Homo sapiens: one gene and its partners. The main gene of each other region encodes a partner of the protein of the gene in region 4 in a complex. Each region holds a gene or a part of one and is shown on either strand. Other genes may lie near its edges. The genes, in order: RBL2, MYBL1, MYBL2, RBBP4, CHD5, RBL1 and CHD4.

What was found.
Region 1: RBBP4 (region 4) and RBL2 share a complex: the UniProt entries of both Homo sapiens proteins name them as parts of the DREAM complex.
Region 2: RBBP4 (region 4) and MYBL1 share a complex: the UniProt entries of both Homo sapiens proteins name them as parts of the DREAM complex.
Region 3: RBBP4 (region 4) and MYBL2 share a complex: the UniProt entries of both Homo sapiens proteins name them as parts of the DREAM complex.
Region 5: RBBP4 (region 4) and CHD5 share a complex: the UniProt entries of both Homo sapiens proteins name them as parts of the nucleosome remodeling and deacetylase (NuRD) repressor complex.
Region 6: RBBP4 (region 4) and RBL1 share a complex: the UniProt entries of both Homo sapiens proteins name them as parts of the DREAM complex.
Region 7: RBBP4 (region 4) and CHD4 share a complex: the UniProt entries of both Homo sapiens proteins name them as parts of the nucleosome remodeling and deacetylase (NuRD) repressor complex.

What each region holds. Positions count from the first base shown.
Region 1 is NC_000016.10:53,465,471-53,469,576, reverse strand, and holds part of RBL2 (retinoblastoma-like protein 2), read right to left. Parts: coding exon 3,975-4,106; intron 2,520-3,974; coding exon 2,408-2,519; intron 1-2,407. UniProt on the Homo sapiens protein: Key regulator of entry into cell division. Directly involved in heterochromatin formation by maintaining overall chromatin structure and, in particular, that of constitutive heterochromatin by stabilizing histone methylation.
Region 2 is NC_000008.11:66,602,613-66,606,718, forward strand, and holds part of MYBL1 (myb-related protein A), read right to left. Parts: intron 1-4,106. UniProt on the Homo sapiens protein: Transcription factor that specifically recognizes the sequence 5'-YAAC[GT]G-3'.
Region 3 is NC_000020.11:43,673,100-43,677,205, reverse strand, and holds part of MYBL2 (myb-related protein B), read right to left. Parts: intron 3,401-4,106; coding exon 3,307-3,400; intron 1-3,306. UniProt on the Homo sapiens protein: Transcription factor involved in the regulation of cell survival, proliferation, and differentiation. Transactivates the expression of the CLU gene.
Region 4 is NC_000001.11:32,667,984-32,672,089, reverse strand, and holds part of RBBP4 (histone-binding protein RBBP4), read right to left. Parts: intron 3,866-4,106; coding exon 3,692-3,865; intron 3,352-3,691; coding exon 3,236-3,351; intron 3,119-3,235; coding exon 2,958-3,118; intron 2,860-2,957; coding exon 2,733-2,859; intron 2,605-2,732; coding exon 2,527-2,604; intron 1-2,526. UniProt on the Homo sapiens protein: Core histone-binding subunit that may target chromatin assembly factors, chromatin remodeling factors and histone deacetylases to their histone substrates in a manner that is regulated by nucleosomal DNA.
Region 5 is NC_000001.11:6,173,516-6,177,621, forward strand, and holds part of CHD5 (chromodomain-helicase-DNA-binding protein 5), read right to left. Parts: intron 1-4,106. UniProt on the Homo sapiens protein: ATP-dependent chromatin-remodeling factor that binds DNA through histones and regulates gene transcription. May specifically recognize and bind trimethylated 'Lys-27' (H3K27me3) and non-methylated 'Lys-4' of histone H3.
Region 6 is NC_000020.11:37,029,678-37,033,783, forward strand, and holds part of RBL1 (retinoblastoma-like protein 1), read right to left. Parts: intron 3,200-4,106; coding exon 2,988-3,199; intron 1-2,987. UniProt on the Homo sapiens protein: Key regulator of entry into cell division. Directly involved in heterochromatin formation by maintaining overall chromatin structure and, in particular, that of constitutive heterochromatin by stabilizing histone methylation.
Region 7 is NC_000012.12:6,600,673-6,604,778, forward strand, and holds part of CHD4 (chromodomain-helicase-DNA-binding protein 4), read right to left. Parts: intron 1,826-4,106; coding exon 1,704-1,825; intron 1,504-1,703; coding exon 1,288-1,503; intron 1,095-1,287; coding exon 976-1,094; intron 859-975; coding exon 617-858; intron 382-616; coding exon 254-381; intron 1-253. UniProt on the Homo sapiens protein: ATP-dependent chromatin-remodeling factor that binds and distorts nucleosomal DNA. Acts as a component of the histone deacetylase NuRD complex which participates in the remodeling of chromatin.

The DNA of each region.
Region 1 (4,106 bases), on a different chromosome or scaffold from region 4:
ATATTATATTTTTCTATAATATTTTCTATCATATCCACTTTCTACCTACCACTCATGTAAGATGTGATTTTACTACAGAGCCACTACTTGATAAGGGGACCTGATTGGTAGTATGTCATCTAGGAGCATTCCGCCACCGGTTTTATCAATTTTGATCTCTGTCTTTTTCCACATATAAAAAATTATTAAAACTCAATAATGTTCTTAAGCAAGGTGGACATGCATGATTTGGATTCAGTTAAGCATAATTTATTTTTTTAAAACAGTTTATATACCATAAATTTCATCTACTTAAATTATACAATTCAATGGTTTGGGGCAAATTGTTACTATTTTTTTTATTTTTTGAGACAGAGTCTTACTCTATCACCCAGGCTGGAGTGCAGTAGCCTGATCTCGGCTCACTACAACCTCTGCCTCCTGGGTTTAAGTGATTCTTGTGCCTCAGCCTCCCAAGTAACTGGGATTAGAGGCATATGCCACAAGGCATGGCTAATTTTTGTATTTTTAGTAGAGATGAGGTCTCACCATGTTGGCCAGGCTGGTCTCGAACTCCTGACCTCAGGTGATCCACCCGCCTTGGCCTCCCAAAATGCTGGTATTACAGGCTAGTTTTTTAAAATTGTGGTTATATATATAACATAAAATTTACCATTCAACCATTTTTAAGTGTATGATTCAGTGGTACACAACCCATTATGGCTTAGTCTATTTTTAAGTATTCACACCAATGTCTGAATTTTTGAGAAGCATTTCTTCCTTCTTCTGTGTCCACTTCTAAGAGCTGTGCATCAGAGTGTTTTTAAAATTTAAAATATACATAGAAAGTTTGTAAGAAGTACTGATAGGAGTAAATCCTAACAAACTGTGGCTTAACATTTCTATTTCCAGATGATACAAAAGTAAATAAACTTACTAGATTTGTATTTGGTACAAAGCTGCAGAATCAGAAAGAATAGATTATGATCATTTTTTCTTATAAAATATCAAGAGATCTCAGGAAAACTGAGAAGTGGTAAGTACAAAGAAAATGAAGTTTAAAGTCAAGTCTTCCTAATCTGTAGATTAGGGAACGGAAAATTCTACAAAAATAGACTAAGAAAGACCAGCTGTCAGATCTTTCAAAAATGAGGACTTTTCATAAGGATCATCCATGTGTATTAAGTATACACTTAGAGTGATTTTTTTGGGGGGGTTGGGGGTAGAGATGGTATCTTGCTATGTTGCCCAGGATGGTCTTGAACTCCGGGGCTCAAGTGATCCTCCCCACTAGGTCTCCCACAGTGCTGGGATTACAGGCATGAGCCACCATGCCCAGCCTAGAGTGAATCCTGACTTTAAAACTGGTATTCCTTCTATAGCCAGTTCTTATCAATTACATTATAAAACTGATCTAGAAATAAGAATATTCTTTTAATTGGATCCAAGGATTTAGAACTCTCTGGATTTACTGAATTGCTCTTTAAAAAAGTAGTTCTATCTCACATATGTAAACTAAAACCTTTCACCTTGCAGATCTTCTAAGCAGCTGCCTAAAAAATACAAACCAGATAGATAGCAAAACTGCCCTTTTCTGTATTTCTTGGGCCAGCACTAATGTCACATTAACTAGGGTAGCACAGCTCAACAAAGTGGAACATACTCAGTTGTCTTAACTCACTGGCTTGTCTATACCTAACTGGATCATGCAGCTCTATCTTTAAGAAGGCTTTTCTATTTCTGATTTTAAAAGTAATATGTATTTGCCTTAAAAATTTTACAGAAATCACCAGGAATTCTATCACCCAACAATGATCTTAACAGTTTGGTTTTTCCATTTCCACTATTTTGTATGCTCATAAATAAACATACACTTTAAAAATAGGGATCATATTAAATATACAGCAGTCAGCCGGGCACGGTGCCTCATGCCTGTAATTCCAGCACTTTGGGAGAACGAGGTAGGCGGATCACTTGAGGTCAGGAGTTCAAGGCCAGCCTGGCCAATATGGCAAAACCCCTTCTCTACTAAAAATACAAAAATTAGCTAGGCGTGGTGGCGCATGCCTGTAGTCCCAGCTACTCAGGAGGCTGAGGCATGAGAATCGCTTGAACCCGGCAGGCAGAGGTTGCAGTGAGCTGAGATTGGGCCACTGCACTCCAGCTTGAGTGACAGAGCAAGACTCTGTCTCAATAAATAAATAAATAAATAAAGCAGTCTATCCTTTTTAAAAGATACCTGTTATATCATGCATTTTCCTGTGTTCTTAGTCTTTAAAGGCCCTTCTTTTAAGTGATCCATGTGGTACAAAAATGCATAGAATATTTTCTTCTATGTATACCCTATTAACTTCACTTGTAGGGTTAGATGAAATTTAAATTTCCAGATAGTAAGCCCCAAAATATTCTCCTAGTATTTTAAACTTACTCCTTCCAAGTCCTCCAGTATCAGCACGAACTTCAGTCACCCTTCTGGGAGTCAAAGGGGAGCCAGCAATGCAAATTTCATCTGCCCTTTCCAGGTTCTGAGGTGGCATGACCTATGAAGAATTGGTTACACAGAATGCCAGTATCCAAAAAAGCACTTTAATTACAAATACAATAGTAATCTAAGGCAGAAAAAGTATCTTAACAATTATTCCATCTAAATAAAATCAGCTGTCTTTCCCATTTTAATAATAAAGTTAAAAAAAAAACTTTTGGCAGTCAAAAAATTCAAAACCTTGTAATTGGATACTAAATATGAGTCAAACTTCATTACTGGTTTGGAGAGTTTGAATATCAACCACTCTAAAGCAGGAGTCCCCAACCCCTGGGCCATGGACCCTGTTAGGAACTGGGCAACATAGCAGGAGGTGAGCAGCAGGCAAGTGAGCATGCGAGCAAAGCTTCATCTGTATTTAAAGCTGCTCCCCATCGCTCACATTGCCGCCTGTGCTGGCCTCCTGTCAGATTAGTGGTGGCATTAGATTCTCACAGGAGTGTGAACCCTATTGTGAACTGCACACATAAGGGATCTAGGTTGCATGCTCCTTATGAGAATCTAATGCCTGCTGATCTGTCACTGTCTCCCACCGCCCCCAGATGGGACCATCTAGTTGCAGGAAAACAAGCTCAGGGCTCCCACTGACTCTACATTTTGGTGAGTTGTATAATTATTTCATTATATATTACCACGTAATAATAATAGAAATAAAGTGTGCAATAAATGTAAGGCAGTTGAATCATCCCAAAATCTCTCCAACCCCCAACCCTGTCCATGGAAAAATTGTCTTCCATGAAACTGGTCCTTGGTGCCAAAAAGGTTGGACCACTGCTCTATGGGAAAGAAACTTGGTAAGGAAATCAAGAAAGAACACTGAATTTTTACTCTGTCACCAAAATCTTAGGACAACCACAAATTATCTGACTCGTTTCCTCTTTGACATGGGGTGAAATGTGACAGGTCACCTACCTTACTTAAGGGTGTATGTCTGCTGCCTAAACCCTGAAGGCTAGGCAGTGAGCCAAGGCCATGGTGCCCAGCCAAGGAACAGGTGTCCCTGAGAACCCCAACATCCCAGAGAAGATCTGAGAAACTACCAAGGAAAACAGTCCCATCGTGCACACACATAGTAGGCAAAGAGCCAGAAAATTAGCTTAAAAGCAGCTTAGCGATGGGAGGTGGCGAGGATCTCTAGAGCTGTCCTGCTGCTACCTAGGAGTACCCTGTATATAAGTCTTTTATTTTTCCCCACCACCTCTGCCTCCTCCATATGTAAGTCTTAATAAACGTTATCTACTTACCAAGCTGGACTTGTCTGAGTCATTCTTTGGTCTCTTGGCACCTTCCCAATTTGTGGGTAGAGAGGGACGTTACAGTCCAAGATTTTTCTCATAACAAGGTGTAATTATAACATATTAAACCTAATTGCCACCCTCCCATCCCCAAAAGGATTATTAATAGATTAGATATTGATGTATTTTTCTCATAAAAAGATGTTATTTTCACAAACCTCTTCACATGTAGGAACTCTGTTTTCATTGTCTCTAATTTTTTCCCAGAGTGGAGACTCTGGTTTCCATGCCAAATGATCTAAGATCTGTTCTTCAATCTGATTAAGGTGTTTTACCACCTCTCTACAAAG
Region 2 (4,106 bases), on a different chromosome or scaffold from region 4:
GAAATCATACAGACTACAAGTCATATTCACAATGAAATTATTCAAAGTACAAAAAATTAAGAGTCAGACAGCGGGGTGGGGTGGAGCTATATATATATATATATATATATATATATATATATTTTTTTTTTTTTTTTTTTTTTTTTTTTCTGAGACGGAGTCTCGCTCTGTCGCCCAGGCTGGAGTGCAGTGGCATGATCTCGGCTCACTGCAAGCTCCGCCTCCCAGGTTCACGCCATTCTCCTGCCTCAGCCTCTCGAGTAGCTGGGACTACGGGCGCCCACCACTACGCCCAGCTAATTTTTTGTATTTTTAGTAGAGGCAGGGTTTCACCGTGTTAACCAGGATGGTCTCGATCTCCTGACCTTGTGATCTGCCCGACTCGGCCTCCCAATGTGCTGGGATTACAGGCGTGAGCCACTGCACCTGGCCTGGAACTATACTTCTTACTGACACCAAACACATGAGGTTGGATATGCCACTACGGGAAAAATCATAACCTTGTACGTCATGTTAAGGAATTTGACCTTTATTCTTTATTTGACCTTTATTCTAAAGAGTTAAATAATTTTAACACAGCAAAAGACAAAAGACAGATATCTTGTGTTTTAGAAAAATCAGTGACAAGAGTGTGGTGAAACTGAAAAAGAAAAACCAATTAGTAATCTTCACAACAACCCAAGCAAGAAATTATTGGGGCCTGACAAATGGTAATGGTAAAATATAAACCGCAGCCAATTAAAAGACACAATAGAAGTGATCCAATTAACAATACCAACAATAAAAAAAATTTAACATACAAGATAAAGGTACAGTAAGTGACAAGACACTGTTGTGAGACACAGATGTCTTGAACAAATGGAAGAACATTCTGACTTTTTTTTTTTTTTCCAGACAGGGTCTCAGCTTGCTCTGTCACCCAGGCTGGAGTGCAGTGGCACAATCACAGCTCACTGTAGCCTCAAACTCCCAGGCTCAGGCAATCCTCCCACCTCAGTCTCCCGAGTAGCTGGGACTACAGGCATGCACCATCATGCCCAGCTAATTTTTTCTATTTTTTGTAGAGATGGGGTTTTGCTATGTTGCTCCACCCGCAATGCTGGTCTTGAACTCCTGAGCTCAAGTGATCCTCCTGCCTCAGCCTCCCAAATCCCACGCTTGAGATTACAGGCATGCATCACCATGCCCAGCCTCCTGACCATATTATTGGATAAGAAAACAATATTATAGATATGTCCATTCTCTAATTTAGGGAGATGTCCATTCTCCCTAATTCATAAATTAAATTAAATGAATAAAAATACCAATAGACTTTGGGAGGCAACTAGACAAGCTGAATCTACAATTCATATGAAAAAAAAAAATCAAGAAGAATGGCAAGAAAAGTTTTAAAAAAGAATAATCAGAGAATTACCACTACCCAATATCAAAATACACTGTAGAGAAATAAAACAGAATGGTACTACCACACGAACACACACATAGATAAATGGAACAGAACATTTAGAAAAGAAAAAAGACCCACATGGAATTTGGTAAATTATAACAGTAACATTTCAAATCAGTGGAGTAAAGGTAGACTTTTCAATAAATGGTGTTAAGACACTGGGTAGCCATTTTTTAAAATTAAGATGGGCTGGGCGTGGACACCTGTAATCCCAGCACTTTGGGAGGCTGAGTCGAGCAGATCATTTGAGGTCAGGAGTTCGAGACCAGCCTGACCAACATGGCAAAACCCTGTCTCTACTAAAATTGCAAAAATTATCTGGGTGTGGTGGTATGTGCCTGTAATCCCAGCTACTTGGGAGGCTGAAGCAGGAGAATCGCTTGTACCCAGTGAGCCAAGACTGCACCACTGCACTCCAGCCTGGGCAACCAAGAGAACCTCCATTTCAAAATTAAAAAAAAAAAAAGATGGTGTCCTACTTTACAATAAAATAAACTGGAGTGAAGCAATTATTTACATTTTTTACATGAAACCATAATAGTACTATAAGAAAACAGAAAAGAAGTCTACTTTTCATATCCTTGAGTAAAAGACAGGTAAATGTGACAAAAATCTGGAAGTGATAAAATAGATCAACCAAGGTAATGATATTAGGAATTGAAAGAAATATATTAAACTGAGAGATATTTAAAAAGTAGAAAAGAAAGGATTTTGCAACTGATAGATGAGGGACATGGAAGAAGGAGGAATTAAGGATGACTCCAAAGTTTCTGGCTTTGAAAACATAAGTAGAGCTATTTACTATGGAAAATGATAGAAGGAGAAACAGAACTTTGGGAGAGAGAAGAAAATGGGGAGAGTATGTATAGTTTGGGACTAGCTGTTTTCAAGGTACTTGAAAAATACACAGGTGGATGTCTGGAACAGCACTTCCCAACAGAGACATAATACAAGCCACATATGTAATTTTCTAGTAGCCACATTTTTTAAAAAAAGAGAAATAAGTGAAATGTACTTCAATAGTCAATATTCCTTAGCTTAATATATCAAAAATATAATCATTTCAACATGTAATCAACATAAAAAAGTATAAATGAAATGTTTTACATATTTTTTTCTTACTAAAGTCTTCAAAATCTGGTGTGTGTTTTGTAGTTAGAGTTCATTACAATTCAGACTAGCCACAGTTCAAGAGCTCAATAGCCACATGTGGCTAATGGCTATCCTACAGGGCAGAGCAAATCTAGAAGGCAAATGAGCATGTGGACCTGCTCAAATACAAGGTCTAGGGTAGAGATGCAGTTTTGGCCAGCATACAAAGAATAGCTGAGGGCACAGGATGACCCAAGGAAAATTAATAAAGTGAGGAAGGGGCCAAAGTCAGAACCTGAGTTTTGATGGAGTAAAAAAAGAAAAAGCAATTTTAAAGAATAAAGCCCCATAAAAAAGGGCAAGCCTTAATGATAAACTGAAATACAAGGCCAGGCGCAGTGGCTCCCACCTGTAATCCCAGCACTTTGGGAGGCTGAGGCAGGCGGATCACCTGAAGTCAGGAGTTCAAGACCAGCCTGGCCAACATGGTGAAACCCCTACTAAAAATACAAAAATTAGCGGAGCATGATGGTGGGTGCCTGTAATGCCAGCTACTCGGGAGGCTGAGGCAGGAGAATCACTTGAACCCGGGAGGTAGAGGTTACAGTGAGCCGAGATTGCACCATTGCACTCCAGCCCAGGTGACAGAGCAAGACTCCGTCTCAATAAATAAATAAGTAAACTGAATTAGAGGATTCTGAGTAGGCAGTGGACTGAATAAAGTCATGGCATCTGAAAATAACACAGTCTACCATTTATTTAAAACTTTCTAAGTAGTCTATTAAATTTTTCTCTTAAAGCCTCACAACTGGAAGAGGGGAATATTATCATTATTCCCATTTCACGGAATAGGAAACTTTGACTCAGAAATGTAACCTCTTGCCCACAGTCACTACTTAACCGCTATACTACGACATACTGGAAAAATAGGGGGAAAGTGCTAGGAAGCTGGAAGATACTAAAGACAAACCTCAAGTTCATTTTGGAATCAGAACAAGGTTCTGGTTCTAACTTAATTACTCACTCTGTAACCTTGAACATGTTAACCTCTCAGGGGTTTAGTTTACTTGTTTGTAAAATGATAATAATACCACCTACCTTATAGTGCTGCTTTAAGGATAAAATTAAATGAGAAAACATATATAACACCTCATACAGCACATGGCACAGAAAGGTGCCTCAATATTAGTATTACGTGCATAGGCTGATCACCTAATAGTATTCAAAATTATTTTTGCCTTACTAGATTCAACTCTTTCTCAAAAATTCATTCTGATTTCACAGAGCAAAATTTGAAGATTTGTTTAACCTTACTCTAATATAGTTAAGCGCATGCAAGTAGTTTCTAATATCTATGTAAGTTATGTAATTTTAATCTTACAAAATTGAAAAATGAAGGCCCAGATTTAATATATACTGTCTATAGATCCTTTGTAGGAACGTCTAACTTCCATTGACTTGTCAATTCCATTGGAACAAAATTCTTCATATTTGACCAGGCAAAACACCAAGATTCTCCCATTCCCCTATGATCTGCTTCTACAGTTCAACACACTTCAATAGTCCA
Region 3 (4,106 bases), on a different chromosome or scaffold from region 4:
TTGGTCTTGTTTATTCTTCTAAGCCCACAAGAGCCAAATATAGTCCCTGGTCCACAACAGGATGAGCAGAAAAGGTTTGCTTAGCACGCATCTGGAAAAACATCTTTCATGATTTAAAAGGAGTTTACCACTCACACAGCAAGTTTTAGAAAAAACAAAACAAGCTAGTCATGGTGGCTTCTGCCTGTAATCCCAACACTTTGGGAGGCCAAGGCAGGAAGATTGCTTGAGCCCAGGAGACCAGCCTGGGCAACATAGCAAGACCCTCTTCTCTATTTAAAAACAAAAAACAAAAGCAATACAAATAATACAATACAAAAAAAAAAACCCAATCCTAAAATTAAAGACATCTATGATGTTAACTATGGGTTGAAAACAAAACAAAACAAAAAACACTGAAGAACTGAAGACACTAAGAAAAACTGAGGTAAAATAAAAAGGCCAGTAGAAGTCTAAAATGGTACAATCCATTAAGAAAAAGGCAGTTTCTGTAAAACTAAACATACACCTACCCCATGACCATACCTATCTTCCCAAAAGAAAGGGAAACATGTATTTGCAAAAAGACTTATGCAAGAATCTTCAAGGTAGCGCTATACACGATAGCCAAAAACTGCAAACAGTCCAAACATCCATCAACAGGTGAAACGCTGTGTGGTATACCCATACAATGGACTACTATCCAGTGATAGAAAAGGACAAGTTACTGAATCACCCAACACAATGCTGAGCAAAAGCCAGACGCAAAGAATGTAACCGTATGATTTCATTTATAGAAGATTCAAGAACAGGCAAAACATATTATCCTAAGCAAACACAGGAACAGAAAACCAAATACCGCATATTCTCATCTATAAGTAAGAGCCAAACACTGAATACACATGGACACGAAGAAGGGAACAAGGAGACCAGGGCCTACTTGAGGGTGGAGGGTGGGAGGAGGGTGGAGGGTGGGAGGAGGATGAGGATCAAAAAACTACCTATTGGGGCTGGGTGCAGTGGCTCACGCCTGTAATCCCAGCACTTCAGGAGGCTGAAGTGGGAAGATCACCTGAGGTCAGGAGTTCAAGATCAGCCTGGTGAACATTTTAGTAGAGACAAGTAGAAACCTTGTCTCTACTAAAAATACAAAAATTTACCAGGCGTGGTGGCACGTGCCTGTAATCCCAGCTACTTGAGAGGCTGAGGTAGGAGAATCGCTTGAACCCAGGAGGCAGAGGTTGCAGTGAGCTGAGATCACACCACTGCACTACAGCCTGGGCAACAGAGAGAGACTGCCTTAAAAAAAAAAAAACTACCTATTGGGTACCACGCTTATTACCTAGGTAACAAAATAACCTGTACATCAAACTCCCACGACATGCAATTTACCTATATAATAAACCTGCACATATACCCCTGAACCTAAAGTTAAAAACAACACACACACACACACACACACACAAAGCCCCCAAAAAGAAAAAGGCAAAACAAATCAAATCAGCAATTTCCTGGAGCTGGGGAAGCCTGACCACAAAGGACCACAGAAAACTTCTTGGGATAATCAGGGTGGTGCTTACATTGGTATATGCATTTGTCAAAAGTGATCAAACCGGCTCACCGTAGTGGCTCATGCCTGTAATCCCAGCACTTTGGGAGGCCAAGGTGGGTGGATTGCTTGAGGTCAGGAGTTCAAGACTAGCCTGGCCAACATGGTGAAACCCCATCTCTACAAAAATACAAGAATTAGCTGGGCATGATGGCGGGTGCCTGTAATCCTAGCTACTCAGGAGGCTCAGGCAGGAGAATCGCTTGAACCCAGGAGGCGGAAGTTGCAGTGAGTGGAGATCACGCCATTGCACTTCAGCCTGGGAGACAGAGACTCCATCTCAAAAAAAAAAAAAGAAAAAAAACTGATCAAACTGTTCACCATAAAAAGGGGCATTTGGCCAGGGACAGTGGCTCATACCTATAATCCTAGCACTTTGGAAGGCTGAGGTGGGAGAAATGCTTGAGCCTAGAAGTTTGAGACCAGCCTGGGCAACATGGCGAGACCCTGTCTCTACAAAAAATACAAAAATTAGCCAGGCGTGGTGGCGCATGCCTGTGGTTCCAGCTACTCAGGAGGCTGACGGGGGAGGATTGCTTGAGCCCAGAAAGTTGAGGCTACAGTGAGCCATGCTAGCACGGCACTCCAGCCTGGGTGACAGAGCAAAAACCCTGTCTCAAAAAGGAATTAAAAAAAGGGCATTTGATTGCATATGATTACATATAAATTATATTTCAATCACATTTATTATAAAATAAAAAGATGGAGCTAGAAGGAAACCAATTCAGGGCTTGATGTCAGAAGGTTCAATACAGTTAATTATTTTAGAAAAAGAAAGTGGGAGTTGGCAGGGTGCGGTTACTCATGCCTGTAATCCCAGCACTTTGGGAGGCCGAGGCAGGTGGATCACCTGGGGTCAGGAGTTCGAGATTAGCCTGGCCAACATGGTGAAACTCCGTCTCTACTAAAAAATACAAAAATTAAGGCCGGGTGCAGTGGCTCACGCCTGTAATCCCAGCACTATGGGAGGCCGAGGCGGGCAGATCATGAGGTCAGGAGTTCGAGACCAGCCTGGCCAGCATGGTGAAGCCCCCGTATCTACTAAAAATACAAAAAAAAAAAATTAGCTGGGCATGGTGGCGCATGCCTGCAATCCCAGCTACTCGGGAGGCTGAGGCAGGAGAATTGCTTGGAACCTGGGAGGCAGAGGTTGCAGTGAGCCAAGATCATGCCACTATACTCCAGCCTGGGTGACAAAGCGAGACTGTCTCAAAAAAAAAAAAAAATTAGCTGGATGTGGTGGCTCACGCCTGTAATCGCACCTGAGGCAGGAGAATCGCTTGAACCCAGGAGGCAGAGGTTGCAGTGAGCTGAGATTATGCCATTGCCCTCTAGCCTGGGTGACAAGAGCGAAACTCTGTCTCAAAAAAAAAAAAAAAAAAAGGGTGGGGGGAGTTACAGATTTGGCCAAACCTCCTAGCAGTCAAAAGGCAAAAAGCACAATCAATGTCCATGACATAGAACATGGCAGCTGCTCAGGAGACACAATGGGCCCTGAGGTCTAGGACACACATCCCCTTCCCACCCACTGAGTCCTCAAAATTGAGAATCCCCCAGAATGCTCTGAGAAGAGGCATGAGGACAATCAGAGGACCCATCCCTTCCTTCACCGGCTCCTCCTCTTCATCCCATCTGATGAGACATCAAATACACTCCAGGCTCAGTTCCTCTGGACAGCCCCCAGCTGCCATCAACCCTCTCTTCCCCATGGCACTCACCTCCTCATGGGTCCATTTGACCTTGCACTTGCTATCCCTCTGCTCCGGCACATCTGAATCTGTGTCCTGGTAGTGCAGCTCATCCAGATCCTCGCTATGGGGAAAGCAGGCCAAGGGTCAAGGATGGTGTGTCCATATGTTTTACATAATGGAGAACGTGTAGGCAGCGGCCAGCCCACCCTAGGGAAAGGTCTGGGGGAGAGAGGCTCTTACTTTTTCTTCTTTTTAAGACATAGGCACTTCTGCTTCACTTATTTTTATTGAGACAGGGTCTCACTCTGTCACTGGGCTGGAATTCAGTGTGGCATGATCGTAGCTCACTGCAGCCTTGAACTCCTGGACTCAAATGATCGTCCCGCCCCAGCCTCCTAAGTAGCTGTGACTACAGGGGTATGCCACCACGCCCGGCTAACTTTTGTATTTTTTGTAGAGACGGGGTCTCACCATATTGCCCAGGGTGGTTTTGAACTCCTGGGCTCAAGCAATCCTCCCACCACGGCCTCCCAAAGTGTTGGGACTATAGGCATGAGCCACCACACCCGACCTCACCTCTTTTTAAATTTTTTAATGAAATAGGGTTAAGAGCTACTTTCTTCTTTTTTATTTTCAGGAATGCCCTAGTGATTTCAAAAGCTGTAAAAAAAAAAAAAAAAGAGGCCAGGCACAGTGGCTCAAACCTGTAATCCCAGCACTTTGGGAGGCCGAGGTGGGTGGATTGCTTGAGGTCAGGAGTTCAAGACCAGCCTGATCAAACACAGTGAAACCCCATCTCTACTAAAAATACAAATATTAGCTGGGTG
Region 4 (4,106 bases):
TGAACCCAGGAAGCAGAGGTTGGAGCTGAGATCGTGCCACTGCACTCCAGCCTGGGTGACAGACTCTCTCAAAAACAAACAAAAAGAAAAACAAAAAAAAAATGTTTACAAAAACAACCCATTACTAGACATTTCTAGACCCAGGATATAAGCTTTTGTTCCATTCCCACAGCACCCCTTTGGCACACTTTTTCTTGAGACGGAAGTCTTGCTCTGTCACCCAGGCTGGAGTACAATGGCAGGATCTCAGCTCACTGAAACCTCCACCTCCCAGGTTCAAGCGACTCTCCCACCTTAGCCTCCCAGGTAGCTGGGATTACAGGTGTCCGCCACCACGGCCAGCTAATTTTTGTATTTGTGTAGAGATGGGGTTAGGCTGGTATCAAAAAAAAAAAGAGATGAGGCCTCGCTATATTGCTTCTAGGCTGGACTTGAACTCTTGGGCTCAAGGGATCTCGCTGCCTCAACCTCCTGCGTAGCTGGAGGTGTGTGCCATGTGCCCAGCATCATTTTATCTTTGGAAACATCACATCTTGTCTGTTCTTGTGGGGTGATCTCAGTTCACTGCAATCTCCTCCTCCCATGTTCAAGCGATTCTCCTGCCTCAGCCTCTTAAGTAGCTGGGATTACAGGCGTGCACCACCATGCCTGGCTAATTTTTGTATTTTTATTAGAGACGAGGTTTCACCATGTTGGTCAGGGTGGTCTCAAACTCCTGACCTCATGATCCACCCGCCTCGGCCTCCCAAAGCGCTGAGATTACAGGCATGGGCCATCGTGCCCGGCCTACATCTTGTCTATTCTTATTTGCTAATTCTGGCCTCTACCCAAATGCAATCCAATTCTGACCTAAGAACTAAAGTACAGATGACATATACAATAACTATGTCCCCAAGTATTTACTATGAGTTCTGTATTACATATAAGTCTGATTAAAAATGACTCCATGCAATAATTTTATTAAAGAGTCAGACAAAAAATTTACTACTATATATCCAACAATCAGAGTTTGCTACCAAATATGGTAAAAGTGCTACCTAGCCTTAAGGTACAGAAAAAGAGGGCATTAGTGACCAGCAATTAAGGAAGAATTTGGATTCTGTCCAGGCAAGAATACCGTCACAAGCAAAGCAAAGAGATAGGGTAAGGATAAAATGTTCACCAAGGTGGGCTGAAAAGTAGAAAATAAGAGACTAAGTATGTAGGAGTATGGCTCACCTAAAGCCCAGTTCAGACGCCACCTTCACACACCAGAATTAATCTTTACCACCCTCAGGTTCATAACACTTGACAAAATCTTTTATTATAGTAATTTCTAAACAAGCCCTCCCTCACTATAAAATTTTGGGCTCGGCTGGGCGTGGTGGCTTACGCCTGTAATCCCAGCACTTTGGGAGGCTGAGGCAGGAGAATCCCTTTAGCCTGGGAAGTGGAGGTTGCAGTGAGCCGAGATTGCACCATTGCACTCCAGCCTGGCCAACAAGAGCAAAATGCCGTCTCAAAAAAATTAATTAAAAAAAAATAAAAAAATTGGGGGCTCCTTGATAGCAAAGGCTACATAACGTAATCTTTCATAGTGCCGTAGCAACAAGCTTTGAACATAGTGCAGTGATTATTTCTTTTTTTAATTTTTGCAATCAGACCTGGGCGATAACCTTGAGCAGGATATAAACTCCCACATGCTTAGCGTTCCAATAATGGAACACTAGGCATAAATGGGTTTAAACTGATGAGGTAGAAAATATGGAGCCAGAGGTTGAGGCTTGGGTTGAGAAATCAACACATGTGGCAAGTAATGAAGGATGAAGAATATATTGGAAGAAGGGAAGAGATCACTAAGTGTCAGAAACAAGGCTGAAAAAATAATCAGGCACTAGTTTTCCTTTCTTTGTAAATTTTTATTAAAAAATAGACAGGGTTGGCCAGGCTGGTCTCAAACTCCTGGCCTCAAGCAATCCACCCATCTCAGCCTCCTAAAGTGCTGGGATTACAGGCATAAGCTACCATACCTGGCCTAGTTTTCTTAATATCTGAAGAATGTAAGTGGTCAATAACCAGTTTGAGAAAGTATAGAAATAACAAAGAAAAAACAATTCCCACAGAAAGTAGCATAGGCATATAGATTTCTATTTTTAGCAACGGCATAAAGCACATGTGTGCCCACTCATACATCCAGGTTTTTCTTTTTTCTTTTTTTTTGAGACGGACTCTCGTTCTGTCGCCCAGGCTAGAGTGCAGTGGCACAATCTCGGCTCACTGCAACCTCTGCCTCCCGGGTTTCATGCCATTCTCCTGCCTCAGCCTCCCGAGTAGCTGGGACTACGGGCATCCGCCACCATGCCCGGCTAATTTTTTATATTTTTAGTAGAGACAGGGTTTCACCGTGTTAGCCAGGATGGTCTCGATCTCCTGACCTTGTGATCCGCCCGCTTCAGCCTCCCAAAGTGCTGGGATTACAGGCGTGAGCGACCGCGCCCAGCAGGTTTTTCTTAAAACAAACAAAATAGTAGCATTAGTTTCTCTTACCTGGAATATTTCATCCTTATGTGACTCAAAGGAATGCAACTTAAGTTTCAGATTTCTCAGATCCCACAAGGCAACAGTCTATGTACAAAAAGAAAAGCAAGAGTAATCAATTTTTTAAGAAAAAAAAAATACTGTAAGTAAAATATCTCTGCAATTCAAAAAAACCTAGAGAAATTATGTTTTCTATTAAAATAAACGAAACTGACCTTGTCAGCTGATCCTGTGGCAAGAATGAACTCACTATAAGGATTGAAAGAAAGGCAGTTCACTTCAGCAGTGTGAGCATCAACTGAGTGGCTTGGTTTGGAAGTATTGTTTGAACGAGTATCCCAACTTCAGTGAAAAAAAAACAAAGGAAAAAAACCTTGAAATGGTGACTAAACATAAAACTTAGACAAGATATTTAGAAACTCTGAATGGATTCTACTCACATCATAAGTTTCTGATCATCAGCAACTGACCCAAACAGAGACTCATGGAGTAGATGCCAGGAAACATCTTCTACTACTGCCGTATGCCCTGTAAAGATGGTCTTCGCATCTACCACTTTTCCCTCCTTTGGAACGGCACTGATGTCCCACAGGCAGATGGTCTTAAATGTAAAATTAACCATTATATAAAAGGAAGATTCTCACCTCCCCACACACCCCAAAAAAGAAACCAACTGGTAACTAGCCCAGATTTGCTTCAAAATGGGAAGGATACACACATGGTCATCTGAAGCACTAAGTAAGTGCCCACTGAGATTTGGGTTCCAAGAAAGCCCATAGCCTTCCTTCTGATGTCCACGGAGACGCAAGTCTGGGTTGCACTCTCCAGAAGGATCTGCAAAGTGACAGACACATCAAGACTACCCAGTCCACTGGCTCTCTGGGCCTACTGAGCATAATGGAATTTTGGTCAAGATGTCTAAAGCTCTTAACATTTATAAATGATATAGGAACCGTTATGATCAAATAGATAATGCTTAAACAGCACCAGTATTTTGTTCTATGTAAAAAAGCATTATTTTTTCATGGAGGCAAAATGAAGAAAAATATACACATATCAATACAAATCACAAGATGTTAAATTACACAGAGTAACATGCAATTAAACTCACAGTGAGTGGAACCATGTATTTCTATAGTGACTCATTTGTATTTGAATAGAAAAGGGCACATACCTGGTTTAGAAGGATGTTTTGTATAGTCAAAAACAAGAACATCACTGGAAGGAGTCTTTGTTGCGATGATACAAGGGTTCTGGGGCATATAACGGGCCCTGTTTACTTCTCCTTCATGGTTGATCTTGATTTCTATTTCAATTTTTCCACTAACTGAACCAAAACCTCCAAATTCTGTGAATAAATTAATTGCAAATGAGGACAAAACAAGAGCTACTCTAGAGGTTACCCAGAGTATAAGAACACAGGAAAGGATTTTTTTTCCTTAGCAACAAACTGGCATAATACTAGATGTAATCTATACATTTGCTAGCACTATAAAGTGCTTTCCTACCCCCGTGACTCCAGGTAGTTAAATAACTAATAAGAAATACAGTCAGCTCTCCATATCAGTGGGTTCTTTATCCATGAATTC
Region 5 (4,106 bases), about 26 Mb from region 4:
TACCCCTCCTGGAGGTGATACCAGCAAGTCCCCTCCCCACTGAGCCTCTCTCTTCATCTGTGAAATGGGCCTAATGTGGCAGCCTTTCCCCCAGGGCTATGGGGAGAAGTAAAAACTGTGAATGCAAAGGACCCACACGATGCCTGCAGGGGCTCAGCAATGGCAGGCAGAGCCCAGCGAGACCCAGGAGGGTCAGGGCGGCAGTGGTGAAGGGCAGAGGGCAGCGGTCTCTAGTTTGGCCACTGCTGGGCCAGAGGTTCTCAGGGCCACCCTAGACGCTGGCCAAGGAGTTCTCAGGCTGCCGTTAGTCCTCGAACCTCCCCCCATGAGACAGGGCTTATGCTGGCAAAGGGGGGCAGTACACCGCCCAAGAGAGGATTCATAATTTATTTATGACATTTAACAAAACCCAGACATCACCTCATTGGTGTCACATCAAAAGAAAGCATCAGTCCTGAGTGGGGAGTGGAGGGAAGAGACGGGGATAGATGAGGCATTTACCCCAAGTGACTGGGGCCTGGGGGGAGTCACCCTGGGGGTGCAGGGAAAGCAGGGAGAGGCCCAGGGCATGGGTGGGGAGGAGGAGGACAGAATGGTGAGAGGGGAAGTCAACCTGGGGGGACAGGGAGGGACAAAAGAGAGAAAAACGGCCAGACAGAAAGGGAGAGGCAGGGGCATGACCTCAGGGGAGACGAAAACTGACAGATATGGGGACAGAGGGAGAGAGAGAGACAGGGAAGGAGAGTGAAATAAGGACAGAGCCACAGAGATAAGCAAAAGCCCAGAAAGTTAGACAACACACATTGTGTTCAGTACCCAGCTCAGAGAAGATATTCCAGAAGTCTCTGATGGGTGGACGGATAATTGTATAGTGAATGGATGGATGGTGGATAGGTGGATGGATGAATGCATGGTGGATGGATGGTGAATAGATTGATGGATGATGAATTGATGGATAGATGGTGGGTAGATGGATGGATAGATGGATGGATGGTGGGTGGATGGATGGATGGATGGATGGATGGCAGATGGATGGACACTGGACGGATGGTGGATGGGTGGATAGTGGATGGATGGTGGATGGGTGGATGGACGAATGGATGGTGGATAGATGGTGAATAGATGGATGGATGATGAATTGATGGATAGACGGTGGGTGGAAGGATGGATGGTGGATGGGTGGATGGATGAATGGATGGTGGATGGATGGTGAATAAGTGGATAGATGGTGAATTGATGGATGGATGATGAATTGATGGATAGATGGTGGGTGGATGGATGAATGGTGGATGGAAGATGGAGGATGGACGGATGGATAAATGGATGAATGGATGAATGACGGATGGATGGATGAAAGATGAATGGATAGATGGATGGATAGATGGTGGGTGGGTGGATGGATGGATGGTGGATGAAGGATGGATGGTGGGTGGGTGGATGGATGGATGGTGGATGAAGGATGGATGGATGGATGGATGGATGGCAGATGGATGGCTGAATGGATAATGGATGGATGATGGATGGATGGTGGGTGGATGAATGGTGGATGAATGGATGAGTGGATGGTGGATGGATGCATGGATGGATGGTGGATTGATGAATAGATGGACAATAGGTGGATGGATGGATGGCAGATGGATGGATGGTGGGCGGATGGTGGGTGGATGAATGAGTGGTGGATGAATGGATGAGTGGATGGTGGTTGGATGCGTGGTTGGATTGTGGATTGATGGATGGATGGTGGGTGGATGGATGGATGGATGCATGGATGGATGGTGGATGGATGAATGAATGGATGGTGGATGGATGAATGGATGGTGGATGAATGGATGAGTGGATGGTGGATGGATGCATGGATGGATGGTGGATGGATGCATGGATGGATGGTGGATAGATGAATGGATGGATGACGGGTGGATAGATGGATGAATGGTGGGTACAGGAATGGATGGATGGTGGGTGGTGGATGAATGGATGGAAGCATGAATGGTGGATGGGCAGATGGATGGATGGTGGATGGGCAGATGGATGGATGGTGGATGGGTGGATGGTGGATGGACAGATGAATGAATGGTGGATGGATGGATTGGAGGATGGATGAATGAATGGTGGGAAGCATGGACAGATAGTGCATGGATGAATAGTGGATAAGAAGAACAAGAACAAATGGATGGATGGATGGATGGATGGATGGACGGACGGACGGATGGATATACATATGGATAGATAGGTGGATGGTGAATGGTTACTTGGTTGGTTTTGTGGGTCGACGGGTAGATGTGGGAGAGCAGGTAGATACATGGATACATGGATGCATGGATGGATGGATGGATGGTGGGAAGCATGGACGAATAGTGCATGGATGAATAGTGGATAGGAAGAACAGATGGATGGATGGATATGGTATGGATATGGATTGATAGGCGGATGGTGAACGGTTACTTGGTTGGTTTTGTAGGTGGATGGGTAGATGTGGGTGGGTAGGTAGATGGATGGATGGATGATGGGTGAGCGACTGAATGAACTGATAAAATGATAGATGGATCCTATTACCTGATCAACTTGGAATGACAATGAATAACCCACTGGCCAAGCCACTGGGCAAAGTGTGCTGGTCATTTTGTCTCCCTCCTCCCAGAAAAGAATGTTAAATACAATCAGGCTCCCTGGGACCCCCCTACCAAACCATGCTTCCACAGGGGTAGGGGTGCAGGCTAAAATGTCATGGCCTTTTGGGAATCATGACTGTCACTCTCTCCTGGCCCCTGGACCTGAGGAAGCAAGCCTAAGATACTTACACATCTAGGGCCAATTGTCACTGGGGCCAGAGAGGTAACGGTGCCTAGTCCAGACATTGCCCATTCTGGGCTCACTAGCTTTGTCTGTGATTGAGGAAAAGCTGGGCCAATGAGGCAGGGAATTTGCCAGCCCAGCAGTGGCCCTAAGAGGGCTGAGAGCCACATTTTCTGAAGCCCTCTCCTGCTTCCTGCCACCCCTACCTTGGGCTTCACAGCCCTCCTCCCACCCAGGCTCCTACTCCCCTGAGCTTACTGGCTAAGGATGCAAGTATCAGAAGCATTTCCTTGGAGAAGGCAGGACAGCTGCCCTCCTTGGCTGGTGCTAACTACACCAGCCACAGTTTATTGAGCACCTATCATGTGCTGGGCACTGTGGCCTAATGTTCCACATGCACTGTCTCACTGTTCCTCATAATAACCCTCTATGAGGTAGCCAGTGCTATGTCCCCATACTACAAGTGGGCACACCGAGGAGAGGGCTGCCTGGCTTGTCCAAGACCACTCAGCTAATGCTCAGAGCTAGAAGCCAAGGCCTCATCCCACCAGCTCTTGACCCCTGGCTTCAACCAGCCACCCCAACTCCCAGGAGAATCTGGCAACTGCTGGTCCCCCAACCAGAAGAGGCACCCGCCCTGCCTTCCTCCTAGAAGCTGGCTCAGACACCTGCCTCAATGCCAGAGCTGGCCAGGGCAAACCTCCCCCTCCCCACCATCACTGCACGGGAAACAATAATTCACTGCTGAGAGTGAGCAACTCCCAGGGGGAGGTGGGAGATGAGCAGAGTCAAAGAAAAAAGATCGGACAAGTCATGAGTTTAATAGCCGTAGACTGAAAAATCATCATGACAGCTTCCAAAACACTAGCTCCTCCAGCCACAAACTTCCATCTTTTGGAACCAGCTGGTTCTGGTCTTTGGGGGTCACCGCCACTGAGCTTGGACTCAGGGCTGCATAGGGGCTATGAGGAAGAGCTCAGGGTGAGTGGGGGGCCAGCAGTGCGACTTGACAGGAGGCCTGGCTAGGGCTGTCTTCACAGCCAGAAGCTGGGGTGACCTAGAGAGTCCCAGCCCTCAGACACTGAAACCACAACCATCTCTCAGGAACGCATGGTTTCAGGTGCTGGGCATGGCAGGTTATCGAGAGTTACATTCGAAGGGGAACCCACAGATCCAGGAGGAAACTGATGACAACGTTTCGAGTATGTGAGGTGTGGTGACACAAGCATGTAGTCCCAGCTACTAGGGAGGTTGAGGCAGGAGGATCGCTTGAGCACAGGAGTTCAAATCCAGCTTGGGCAACACAGCAAGAC
Region 6 (4,106 bases), on a different chromosome or scaffold from region 4:
GGAAAACTCAAAAAACCTAAAGAATCCATAAAAACTGATAGAATTAATAAACAAATCAGCAAAGCTGCAAGAAAATCAATACAACAACATCTCTTGTGTTCCTTTACATTAATGAACAATCTAAAAAATGAAATTAAGACAATTCTACTTACTTATTACTTACAATAGCATCAAAAAGAATACTTAGGAATAATCTTAAGCAAGGACTTGTCTTGCAAAAGACATATACAGAAAACTACAAAATGTTGCTGAAAGAAATTAAAGAAGACGCAAATGAAAAGACATCCTATGATCATGGACTGGAAGACTTGACATTCTTAAGATGTCAACACTAGCCAATGCGATCTCCATATTCAATGCAATCTCTGTCAAAATTCCACAATGTTTTTGCAGAAAGAGAAAAATCCATCCTAAAACTCATACAGACTCTCAAGAAATCTTAAATAGCTAAAACAATCTTAAGAAAGAAAAACAAAGTTGGAGGTCTCACACCTCCTGATTTTAAAACTTATGACACAAAGCTATGGTTATCAAAACAGTGTGGTACTGAATACAGATAGACATATAGTCCAATGAATAGAATAGAGAGCCCAGAATTAAACCCCCATATCTATGCTCAAGTGACTTTTCAACAAGGATTCTAAGCTCATTCAATGGGAAAGGGCAGTCTTTCAACAAATCGTGCTGGGAAAAATGGATATCCATGTGCAAAAGAATGACTTTAGACCCTTATCTAACACCATATACAAAAATTAAAATGGGCTGGGCGTGGTGGCTCACGGCTGTAATCCCAGCACTTTGGGAGGCTGAGGTGGGCAGATCACTTAAGCTCACGAGTTGAGACCAGCCTGGGCAACATGGTGAAACCCCGTCTCTACAAAAAAGTTCAAAAACAGGCCCGGCGTGGTGGCTCACACCTGTAATCCCAGCACTTTGGGAGGCCAAGGTGGGTGGATCACCTGAGGTCAGTAGTTTGAAACCAGCCAAACCAGCACGGTGAAACCTCGTCTCTACTAAAAATACAAAAATTAGCCAGGCGTGGTGGCATATTCCTGTAGTCCCAGCTACTCAGGAGGCTGAGAAAGGAGAATTGCTTGAACCCGGGAGGCAGGGGTTGCAGTGAGCCGAGATTGCGCTACTGCACTCCAGCCTGGGCAACAGAGTGAGACTCTGTCTCAAAAAAAAAAAAAACAAAAACAAAAAACCCAAAAAACGAAAATTAGCTGGGCATGGTGGCACATGCCTGTAGTCCTAGCTGCTCAGAGGGTCGAGGTGGGAGGATCATCTGAACCTGGGAGGCGGAGGCTGCAGTGAGCTGTGACTGCGTGACTGCACTCCAGCCTGGGTGATAAAGTGAGACTCTGTCTCAAAAAAAAATAGACATAATAAATATAAGAGCTAAAAACTATAAAACTCTTAGACGAAAACATAGGGGAAAAGTTTTATAATACTGGATTTGGCAATGATTTCTTGTGTATGACACCAAAAGCACAGACAAAAAATGAAAAGAATAAATTGACTTTATTAAGATTAAAAACTTTCATGTGTCAAGAACACTATCAACGGAATGAAAAGGCAACCCACAGAATGGGAGAAAATACTTGTAAATAGTATATTTTATAGGAGATTAATATCTAGAATACATAAAGAACTCCTACAATTTAACAAAAACAAAACCCAAAACTCATAATTAAAAAAATGGGCAAAAGACTCGAATAGACATTTCTATAATGAAGATATATAGATGGGCAAAAGCACATGAAAAGATACTCAATATTACTAATCATTAGGGAAATGAAAATTGAAACTATAGTAAGATGTCTCTTTATACCCATTGGATGGCCATTATCAAAAAAACAAACAAACCAGAAAACACGAAACGTTGGCAACGATGAGAAGAACTTGGAACACTTGTGCCTTGCTAGTGGTAATGTAAAATGGTCCACCCACTGTGGAAAATGGTACGGTGGTTCCTCAGAAAATGAAATACTAAATTACTCTCCCATTTCTGGGAATATACCCAAAGGAATTGAAAGCAGAGACTTGAATAGATATTTGTTGCTATTTTTTTTTCTTCTTAAGACAGGGCCTCGTTCTGTTGCCCAGGCTGGAGCGCAGTGGTGTGATCTCGACTCACTGTAGCCTCAACCTCCTGGGCTCATGTGATCCTCCCACCTCAGCCTCCAAAATAGCCAAGACTATAGGCATCTGCCACCATACCTGGCTGCTTTTTTTTTTTTTTTTTTTTAAAATAGAGATAGGGTCTCACTGTGTCGCCCAGGGTGGTCTCAAACCCCTGGGTTCAAGTGATCCTCCTGCCTCGGCCTCATAAAGTGCTGGGTTTACAGGCATGAGCAACCACGCCTGGTTTGAACAGACACCTGTACACAAATGTTCATAGCAGCATAACTCACAATAGCCAAAAGGTAGAAGCAACCCAAATGCCCATCAGCAGATGAATGAATAAACAAAATGTGGTATTAAAAAAAAGTATATTCATATGATGGAATATTTTTTCTTTTGTTCTTTTTTTCTCTTCTTCATACAATGGAATATTATTCAGCCTTGAAAAGGAAGGAAATTCTGGCACAAGCTATAATATGAATGAACCTAGAAGACATTACGCTAAGCCAGTCACAAAAACAAACAAATATCGTATGACTTCACTCATAGGAAGAACCTAGAGTAGTCAAATTCACAGAAACAGAAAGTAGAATAGTAGTTGCCAGAAGCTGGGGAAAGGGAGAAATGGATACAGAATTTCAGAATGGGAAGACGAAAAAGTTCTGGAGATAGACGGTAGTAATAAAGCTGCACAACAATGTGAATGTATTTAATACCATTGAACTGTACACTTAAAAATGGTTAAAATGGTAAATTTTGTGTTATGTATATTAGAAAAAAAAAAGACCAAAGTCTGTCTCTGTTACTCAATCTTTCTTCCATTGATTAAACAAATTCTTCTAAAGTGCTATAAAAACACATACCTTTCTGTAAAATAGTGCTAAGGACCCAGTTCTCTTTGGCCTGTTTATTCCAGTTGAATGTACCTCTTGTGCTTTAGTCAGATTGGTCTGTTTTGGAGAAGCACCAATTAATGAATGAGCAGTAAGTGATACAGGACTCTTGACTTTGGACTCCTGATTTGTATTCATGGAAAGAGGTATCAGTGTGATCTCTCCAGCATCATTTGCGACACCTGAATGTATAAGCATTATTAGAAATAATCTGCATATGTTCTAGGAAAGTTGTCAACTATATATATTTTGACAATTATATATACATATATCTGTGTGTATAAGAAGGCTACAAAATAGTAATTCTAGGTTATGACTGAATTCTTTTTTTTTTTTTTTTTGAGACAGGGTCTCACTTGGTCACTCAGGCTGGAGTGCAGTGGCGCCATCTCAGCTCACTGTGGCCTCGACCTCCTGGGCTCAAGTGATCCTCCCATTTCAACCCCCGCAAATAGCTGAGACTACAGGTGCAAGCCACTATGCCTGGTAAATTTTTTTTTTTTTTTTTTGAGATGGAGTCTTGCTCTGTCGCCCAGGCTGGAGTGCAGTGGCGTGATCTCGGCTCACTGCAACCTCTGCCTCCCGGGTTCAATTCTCCTGCCTTAGCCTCCTGAGTAGCTGGAACTACAGGCACATGCTACCACACCCGGCTAATTTTTAAAATATTTTTAGTAGACACAGGGTTTCACCATGTTAGCCAGGATGGTCTCGATCTCCTGACCTCATGATCTGCCCTCCTCGGCCTCCCAAAGTGCTGGGATTACAGGAGTGAGCTACTGTGCCCGGCTTGTATTTTTTTTTTAGAGATGGGAGTTTTGCCATGTTGCCCAGGTTAGTCTCGAACTCGTCAGCTCAAGCCATCTGCCTGCCTTGGCCTCCCAAAATGCTAGGATTACAGGCATGAGCCACTGCAGCTGGACTTTTTTTTTTTTTTTTTGAGACAGTCTCACTCTGTCACCCAGGTGGGAGTGCAGTGGCCTCATCTTGGCTCACTGAGACCTCTGCCTCCCAGGTTCAAGCAATTCTCCTGCCTCAGCCTCCTGAATAGTTGGGACTACAGGCATGCGCCACCACACCCGGCTAATGTTT
Region 7 (4,106 bases), on a different chromosome or scaffold from region 4:
GCAGGATGAAAAAGAATAAGGTTAGACGTTCAAGCCAAGGGGAAGGACAGAGTGGCAGAGAGGGGAGTACTCTCTCACTGGGGACACCAGAATCCCAGCAAGCACCGTTATACAGGGAGCCTAGTCTCATCTTGTTCTGTGGGAAACGCCCCACATTCTTACGTGCCTACTATGAAGGACAGGTTCTGATAGAAGGTCACATCCTTTCTATTAGACATGGCACCCTCCCTAAAGCGATGGGCTGGGCTCTCACCGAGGATCTCTTACGCTTGGAACCAAAACCTCCCAGCTTGATTTTCAGGGGAGCTACTTTCTTGGGTTTAGGCTTCTTGGCATCAGGTACACGAGGGCTGCCCTTGGGCTTCCTCCGAGCATTGGGACCTAAAATCAGGATATATCCAAATATATACCACAAGACCAAAGATGGGGAAAATAAAATCTTCTCCACCTAAGCTTGCTTCCCCACATTCAGATTCCCAAATTTCCCTCCAAAATCCAAGACTCATTCCTCCCTCCTATCTCCTACCTTAGGGCTGACAGACCAGCATTCCCATGCTGTCTTTGACATCTTAAGCCCACACTAGACACCCCCACTCCCATTTGAACCCCATTTCACCTTTGCCCTCCTTGGTCTTGGCCTTGCGGATAGGCACCTCCACAGGGGGAGGTGGTGGTGCAACCTCAGTGGCTGTCACCATGCTCTCCACCACAGCTACCGCTGCTGCTGCCGCAGCTGCCACTGATGCCCCAGAACTGCCTTTGAAGGGGTTATTGGTACTGAACTCCCGCCATTTTGCACCCAAAACCATCATCATCTTGGAGACAGCAATCTTGGGATTTTTGGCAGCAATGAGGGGTCTGGTGGAGAAATGCACAAGAGCAGAGGGAAAGGTTTAAGAATAAAAAAAGAAAGAGAAGTAAGAAGAGAGAACAGAAAGATTCTCCTCCCCCTTCCCCAAACCCCTTCTGTTTTACCTGACAAACTGGCTGAAGGCCTTGTAGTTGGTGAGGGTTCGATAATCCTCCTCTGAGAACACGTGGTCAATGTCTTCCATGCCCCAGTCTTCCAGGAGCTGAGCAGATGATTTAGGCTCCTGCAGAAAGAGCAAAGTCAAGTAAGTACCTGCCACCTAGTGCCCACACTTGCTAAGCAAATTTGTGTGGAAAAATCAGAGTAACAGAGTTAAGAGGAAAAGAAGAGAAAGTGTTCTAAAGGGCAGTAAGGTGTCTAGGAAACAAAAAGACAAAAGTTTAACAGTACAAAGAAGAGGATGGAGGTCCAGGCACCTTTGAATCATCATCATCATCCTCCTCCTCCTCCTCCTCCTTCCGCTTGGATTTGCTCTTCTTCTCTTTCTTAGGTCCAAGCTTCTTCTTCTTCTTCTTGCCAGGAGTATAGTCGCTGCCCTCACTGTCTGAGCGCAGAGCCACCTCTTCCTCCTCCTCCACAAACTCTGGCCCCTCCCCAGAGCTGTCCCCCAGCTGCCGGCATAAGAGCATACGCTGGAGCAGGGCAAGGGGGGAAGAGGGAGACAGACACACACATGCTACACACATGCTGACCTCAGGACAGCCCTGAGGCTCATCCCCAGAACATGGCCCACCACTTCTGAGAAAGAAACAAATGCCCTCAGCCCTTCAACCCTTCTCAGAGCTCCTCCCTTCTTCCTCTGATTCCCCGTAACATTCAGTCACCCACTCACCTCCTTTTTTTGGCGCTTGCTCTTAGGGATTTTAGGGTCCCGAGGTTTCTTAGGCTTTTTCTTCTTCTTGAGCTTTGGAGTCTCTGTTTCTGACAAATCCTCTTCTGGGTCCTCTTCATTTTCTACATATATTTGGCAAAGAGTGGTAGGCAGGGAAAAGATCAATAGCAAAAGGTTAGGCCCTAATCCAGAGGCTTTAGACTTTATTCCCCACCTCTTGTCCCAGATTCCTCTGAAGAGAACTGCTATACTCTGTACAGGAGGAAGCTGATACCCAGGACAAAAACAGACAAAGAGAGAGCTGTATATACCCGAAATAGGCCTGCCAGGCCAGACCAGGCCCACCTCGGGCAGCTGTCCAGACCCCTGCCTCCTCTCTCCCGTTCCTACCAGTCCTCTAGATGTTCACCAGTACAGCTGAACTGAGCTGCTCAGAGTTCACCAAGTAAGAGAACTAGATTTAGGCCTCCTGTAACTGGCCACCAAGTTATTCTATAAACCAGGGAATGAGAATGAAAGATCCTACTCAGAAGGCAAAAACTATAGAATATACCTTCCCAGAACAGGATCAGTTCAGGGGTCTCGGAAACCACACCCTTCTCTAACCACTTTGAAGTCATCACTGCTCAAATTAACCAGAACCTCCAAGTCCTAGGTTCAGGTGCCAGCTCAATCTCATGCCCACTTCTAAAATACAATTTCCTTTCCCCATCTCCAACCCTAATGTTCCTCCTCAGCTTCTCCTGGGTCAGCAGCCTCTTCTCCCTAGGGGCCCGAATCAGCCCAGCTGTCACCATCTCCCCTACACCCGCCCCCCAGCAAGCCTCCTCCCATCTGGCTCCACCTCCTCCCCTGGCTGGAGGCACACACAAAGCCTGGGTAAGACTGAAAGCTCCTGGGCAAGGATAGGTGGGAAGGGACACAGAGAAGACCAGGAGGCAGCTTCCTTTGTAACAGACATTCACACTGGCTCCGACTCCCTCCTCCCTCCTCTCTCCCTCTTCCCAAGCCACCCCCGCCCAAAGGGGGGTGGGTAGAGAAAGGAGTGGAGAGAAGAAGGGAGTGCCTCACCCACTGAGGAGAGGGAAAATGGCTCCTGACCGCAGAAGCCAGCCCAGGGCACCCAGCTGCCAACATAGGACAGACAGGAAGTGGCAGGGGAGGGGGTGGGTTTGAGAGAGGTGGGGTGGCGGGGGGGGAGACTGCCCTCATAGAAGCCTCCCCAAATTACCTGGCCCCAGGTCCAAATGCCACCTACTCTGGGATGACAACAGTTCACAAGAGCCCACCCTAACATCCTAAGCAAGGAAACCCAAGGAAAGCGAGACAAACATGAAGGTAATACTAAGAGAAGAACTCGATCACTCCCTCAATCATAATTATTTTTTCAATCATCAGAGCTGAGATTTAACAAAGGCTCAGTGGACTTGTGGTCAGCGCATACAACCTTCTCCCCAAATTTCTGATACCCAAAAGATTTAGTTTGAGGAATGGAGGCCCACAAGAAGTCTCTGAAGCTCAGCTTCCTCACCACTCCCACCCAGATTCCTATCCAACATATGGGAATGTCTGCACAAAAAAACAGAGCAGGACCTAGACAGTGGTAGAAGAGAATATCCCAATCGGGTGCAATGGCTCATGCCTGTAATCGCAGCACTCTGGGAGGCTGAGGCGGGCAGATCATTTGAGGTCAGTTCGAAACCAGCTTGGCCAACATGGTGAAACCCTGTCTCTACTAAAAAAACAAAAATTAGCCAGGCATGGTGGTGGGTGCCTGTAATCCCAGCTACTCAGGAGGCTGAGGCAGGAGAATCGCTTGAGCCCGGGAGGCGGAGGTTGCAGTGAGCCAAGATCGCACACTGCACTCCAACCTTGGCGACAGAGTGAGACCCCATCTCAAAAATAAAAAAGAAAATAATATCCCTCCTTCAATCCCTGACATGTTCTTAGCTCTTAACCCCCAAAATTAGCCCTAAAATGTCTCTGGCTCCCCACTTCCTGAGCTAGACAGATACTAGGGAATGAGACATTAGGCTGGACAAAGCACCATCAGCCTCCCTGCTTCTCAGCCCAGAATAAGACCAGGCACAAGAACGCCCCTCCCATTCCCCCTTGGGAATGCAACATCAGCCTGGATTTCACCAGAAAGAATCATTTTCTTAAGGACTTTTCCCCACCAATCCCCAAGTCAACCCCCAACCCCCATCAGCTACATCTCACCACCCCCATAAAAGCTGGAAGTGGAGACAAAGACAACCCATGGAGGCAAAGGGGACATCCTTCCATGCACATGGAGCCCCCCAAACTTCTCAGGCAAATAATATGCTGAAATGGCAAACCGCAAACTTACTGAGATATAGAGAAGATTTAGGAAAGGGACAGGAATGGGGTGTGGCAAGTGGA